Regions from separate parts of the Homo sapiens genome. Here region 2 is linked to region 1. Evidence: fine-mapped expression QTL. Tissue or cell type: prefrontal cortex. Region 1 holds a variant in brackets; the other region holds the start of a gene. All regions are shown on one strand. Distances are between the middles of the regions.

Region 1 (2,679 bases):
AAAAAAAGAAATTACTTAATGGGTACAAGGTTTGTTATTCTGGTGATGGATAATTCAGAATCCCTGATTTGACTACTTGTGCATTCTGTGCCTGTAATGACATCACACTTGTGGGCGGGGCACAGTGGCTTACACCAGTAATTCCAGGGCTTTGAGAGGCCAAAGCAGGAGGATCGATTGAGCCCAGGAATAAGAGGTTGCAGTGAGCCATGATTATGTCACTGTACTCTGGCCTGGGTGACAGAGCAAGGCCCTCTGTCTTAAAAAAAAAAAAAAAGAAAAAAATGGAGTTTCAGGTGTGGATAGAAATTTCTAAAAATTGTGCTTGTACCCCATAAATTTATACAATAAAAAAAAGTCTTGGCTGGGCGCAGTGGCTCATGCCTATAATCCCAGCACTTTGGGAGACCGAGGCAGGCGGATCACGAGGTCAAGAGATTGAGACCATCCTGGCCAACATGGTGAAACCCCGCCTCTACTAAAAATACAAAAATTAGGCTAGACGCGGTGGCTCACGCCTGTAATCCCAGCACTTTGGGAGGCCGAGGCGGGCGAATCACAAGGTCAGGAGATTGAGACCATCCTGGCTAACACGGTGAAACCCCGTCTCTACTAAAAATACAAAAAATTAGCCGGGCGTGGTGGCGGGCGCCTGTAGTTCCAGCTACTCGGGAGGCTGAGGCAGGAGAATGCCATGAACCTGGGAGGCAGAGCTTGCAGTGAGCCAAGATCGCACCACTGCACTCCAGCCTGGGTGACAGAGCGAGACTCCGTCTCAAAAAAAAAACACACACACACAAAAAAACAAAAATTAGCTGGGCGTGGTGGTGCACGCCTGTAGTTCCAGCTACTCGGGAGGCTGAGGCGGGAGAATCACTTGAACCCAGGAAGCAGAGGTTGAGTGAGCCGACATCACACCACTGCACTCGTCTCGTGACAGAGTGAGACTCCATGTCAAAAAAAAAAAAAAGTACTTAGGAAAGTAGATGTGAAAAACTTAAATCAGCTGTGAACAAATAGTAAATTAAAAGACTAGACCGTGTGACCAAGTGGGGTGAGTGGTACGT[G/A]TTTCTTTTACATTTTTTTTTTTTTTTTGAGATGGAGTCTCTCTGTCACCCAGGCTGGAGTGCAGTGGCACGATCTTGGCTCACTACATCCTCTGCCTCTTGGGTTCAAGCAATTCTGCCTCAGCCTCCCAAGTAGCTAGGACTACAGGCACGTGCCACCACACCTGGCTAATTTTTGTATTTTTAGTAGAGACAGGGTTTCACTATATTGGCCAGGCTGGTCTCGAACTGCTGACCTCGTAATCCACCTGCCTTGGCCTCCCAAAGTGCTGGGATTACAGGTATAAGCCACCGCGCCCAGCCTGTGGTGCGTGTTTCACAGCAACCAGGAGGCTGTCAAGAAAATTAATATTACCTTATTGGGTGCCAAGGCAACACTGTTTGGTGTTCAGAGCTGATTAAAAACAACAACAAAAAAGATATTATAGGAACAATATTTAGTGTGATAAAATATACAGTCTAAACCAATAGTCCCTTCCTTAATGATGAAAGGATAAAATCATTGCCAGAACAAAGGCAGCGTGTAATTTTTAGAAAGGAAAAAATAAGTTGTTATTTGCAAATGATATGTTGTATGCTTAGACAAAAACAAATAATTAACTGAAAATTGAGAGTGAATTTAAGGATTTGTATGCTGGTGAGACCAGGTAAATGTGCACAGTTAGAAGTGTCCCTGTGGGTCCTTGATAGCCAATCAGGAGAGCAATGATGTGGTGTGACGAGTCATTCGGCTGCCCCTGTTTTCCAAGCATGACTGTGTCCCCAAGCACAGGGGTCCTGCTGGGGCAGCTCTCCCTGACTCCAGGATTCATAAGTCCCTGCCTGGGGCTTGTACTGAGTCACTCAGGTGGGGTGTGAGTAGGGGGCTGGGGAGTGGTTTGTTTGTAACCTTTTCTGGTGGCTTCTTGACCAGGTGGGAGTGTGGATTGATGTTGGCAGCCGTTTTGAGACTGAGAAGAATAATGGGGCAGGCTACTTTTTGGAGCATCTGGCTTTCAAGGTGAGGCTCTTAAAGTCTGTCTCCTCTGGGCTTAGGGCTGCCTGTTGTCCCTCCTGAGGATGAAGGTCAGAAAAATTAGCCTGATTATGGGCCTCAGTTGCGGGGCTGATGTCTGGCTGGCTTTCCTAAAAGGAGCCACATGAGCTTAACCTCTCCTGAGTGGGCACGTATCTGATGAGCCCCTGCCTGAGGCCCTCAGAGCCAAGAGGACCCAAGGAACCATAGGAGCCCCACTTTTCACCAGAGAAGCCAGGCCTGTGGAACACACGTAGATATGCACATGCATTTTAACAAACCCACAGACATGGGCATGCATGCTTGCTTATGAAATGTTCTTCTCTGGTGGAATATCTAGGCATCCCTTGGTTGTAAAGACCCATGTTTTTTAAAGGAATGAAAAACATGGAGAAGGATTATGGGGTGGGCAGGGCCATGGAGCCATAGTAGGCAACCTAGCCAGCTGCAATGTCACAGGTATGTGTGCAGAATTAACGTGTGTGTGCACACCAAGAGATAGCACCACTGTTCTCCACACACAGGACTAGGATTGGGTCCCACAGAGGCCACTAGCATGTATTCACAAACATACAGTCATGGGAATGGCATGGGAGG
Region 2 (2,679 bases), 160 kb after region 1:
GAAACCAATTTAGCAGACCATTGTTCAAGAGAGGACTCATGGTAACACAGATCAGGCAGCTGGTAGAAGCAATGTGAATAGGATAGACTCCAGAGAAGGATTAAGAAGGTAAGCTTGACATGCTTTCCAAATAAATTAGATGTAGAGTCAAGGAAAGGGGAAGAGTCGCTTTGTGCCACTGGATGGAGAGTCGTGCTAGTTACTTCCTTGTGGAACATCTGGTCATCATTCTCTGAATGTCTGCTTTGCCGGCACCATGCTAGAAGTGCTGGAGGAGGACTGGGTTTCCAGGAAATGATCGTGTTGAGTTTAAGGTGCCTTGAGACACCCAAGTACAGATGCAAGGTGCACTCAAAACATTTCTCTTTCTGGGAGTCCTCAAGACTTCACTCACTCCTCAACTAGAATGTAAGCTCCATGAAGGACAGTTTTTGTATTTTGTTCATTGTAAGGTCAGCTGCAGTTCCTCACGTTTGGGCACCTAGCACAGTTTACTGGTTGTATAAAAGAATAAATTTATTTCATCTCTTGCCTGTGTCTGGCTCCTCCCATGCTCACACTGCCCAAGGGAGACAGTGGGCTTCATAAGATCTAAAGCCGCTCAAACTTGTCACAAGAATGGGTCCCCATGCATGGGTAGTGATGGTTCTGATGGTGGTGGTAGGTGTGTTCCAAGGATCTCTGCTTAGAACCAAGAACCAAGTGGCCTAAACTTTAGAAAATAACGTAAAATGTCAACTTAGCCTTCTGTGTTTCAAATCGGCTGTTTGACCTGGCTAATGCATTTCCCCCTAAAATCAAAGGACCTTCTGGAAGACAACCGCTGCTTAAATCAGGGTGTTCCCATATTTTAAAAAGGCGAAAAGGCAGTGCTGGCCGCGAGGTTCCGAAGCCACAGCCATCAAGGGGATCTGGCGCGGTTGACAACTCCCTCCGAGCAAAAGGCCGCGAGGAGCACTCACTGGACACGTCCCGAGCCGCGGCCGGACATTGGCTCAGGGCCTGTGACGCGAGGGTGTCAAGCTCCTCCAGGTCGTCGGCAGTGAAGTCCCCATGCGCGCCGAACGGGTCGTCAGGGTCCGGGGCAGCGGCTGCGGAGAAGCCCCGGGCCCGCTTGCTCGGGGGGTGCCCGGTGCCCGGCGGCGGGCCGGGGCGAGGCGCCGGGGGCTCGCTCCGCCTCTTGCTGCCTGGCGCGGAGGTCCCCGCCATGCTTTCCGCTCACCCCAAGTATCCGACAGCGCCGAGCTAGACTTGCCTGCCGCCAGGCCGGAGAACTGGACCAACCGTCCGCGCGCCGCCGCTTGCCTCCGCCGCGAGTGCCCCGCCCCTGGCCCAGGGGCCAATCAGCTGGCAGGCGGAGGGCGCGGAGGAATGACGAACGTCCGAGCGCGCCGCCACACCCGGCCCCGCCCGGTGTTTAGAGGTCCACGGGCGGGATTCGGCAGGTTTGCTGCAAGGACTCAGTGCGGCGCGACCCGTTACCGGAGAGGCGGGCCGGAGGCGCACCAGCTCCGCCGCGCTGGTGGCTTTGCGCTCCCTCCCTGGCATTCCGTGGAGGAGGGCCGCGCAGGAGCAGCCTGCCCTAGCATTCACGCGTGTTGCGTTTGAGTCGAGCCAGGCATCATTCAGGGATGTGGTCTCCGTGACCTCGCTTTCCTTCTGCCGCCAGACCCACCTCCCACAAACCCCTAGGCTTTCTTGAGGAGAGTGGAATTTGTTGGGTGAGGAGTATGAATAGAGCTGTCGTGTGCAGACATCTTCGGGTTTAGTGAATGTTTCACATGTGTACATTTGAGGTAGGCCCAGGGAGGAGGAAAGTCCAAGGAGGAATGATGTTTGGAGCTGTTCTTGTGTGGGAGGGGGTGGGAGCTGCTCAGGCTGTTAACATCCATTCCTCTGAGTGCTGGACTGTTTTTTTTTCCTAAGCTCTGGTTGTATAGAATAGGGCTCAGGAGGTCAAGGAAGTCCCCCTGTAAATGGCACCTGCGCTGTCCTACAAGTTGAGTCAAGTTAGCAGGATAGAGGGGTAGGAGGCTGGCACATAAGACTAACACGAGAATTCTACATTGAAAGGGAGGCCACACAAAGGCCAGGTAAGAGTTACCGGTGGCGAACAGAGGTAAAGCTTCACAAAGGAGCAGCAATTTGAGGTGGGCTTGCGTGCCTGACAGATTTTATTGGGCAGCTGTGGTGTGCAGAAGTTAGCCGCAATAGAGAATTTGGCAATGGAGAGTAACAGGAGCAAGACTCTTTCAGCCTTACCTGCTCAGTGCCAAACTTCACCTGTGAGTGTCCTAGGAATATTTGTGAAAGCATTAAATGAAAAGAGTAAATGAAAAAGAGAGTGCTATCAGGGCCTATAATGTCTAAGGAGTTTAAAATTTTTTGGAGCAACTGGTAGTCTCCGTCAGATAGCTTCCCAAGTGTTGCATGCTTAATTGCTGCAGGACTCTGGTCCTGGAAAGAGACAGGACTGTTCATTTGTTAAAGAGGGATAGGTTCCACCAAGTAACTTGCTTTCAGGAACAGTGTGAATCACTGGTGCTCAGGTTTGTTTTAGCAGCATACGGCTGGGTGCCAGCTAGCAAGGCCCCACAGGGAATGCCTGAAGCCTACTGAAGGGTGCTACTGGCTGTGCAACTTTCTGGAGAGGACCAACACAGGCTTCCCCCTGCCCCC

Direction of the effects. Positions count from the first base shown, and alleles are read on the strand shown. Sizes are in standard deviations (SD) of each study's normalised expression.
In carriers of allele G in region 1, the expression in prefrontal cortex of the gene that starts at base 1,318 in region 2 tends to be higher than with A alone (moderate effect, 0.55 SD a copy in BrainSeq).

Evidence for each region. PIP is the estimated chance that this variant, and not a neighbour inherited with it, causes the effect.
Region 2: ATRIP starts here. The variant in region 1 is fine-mapped to the expression of ATRIP in prefrontal cortex (BrainSeq, PIP 0.91).

Annotation. Positions count from the first base shown.
Region 1 is chr3:48,605,158-48,607,836 of GRCh38, reverse strand. It overlaps UQCRC1 (ubiquinol-cytochrome c reductase core protein 1), which reads left to right. Exons shown (of 13, transcript NM_003365.3): 3 at 1,981-2,067. Among named protein-coding and RNA genes, the nearest start is that of SNORA94, 1.3 kb to the right of the region's middle. The variant G/A (reference allele first, on the strand shown) is at 1,068.
Region 2 is chr3:48,445,376-48,448,054 of GRCh38, reverse strand. ATRIP (ATR interacting protein) reads right to left here and starts at 1,318. Exons shown (of 13, transcript NM_130384.3): 1 at 963-1,318. The coding sequence starts at 1,209. ATRIP-TREX1 (ATRIP-TREX1 readthrough) reads right to left here and starts at 1,276. Exons shown (of 15, transcript NR_153405.1): 1 at 963-1,276. It also overlaps a transcript of CCDC51 not described here. RefSeq lists a silencer at 1,014-1,373.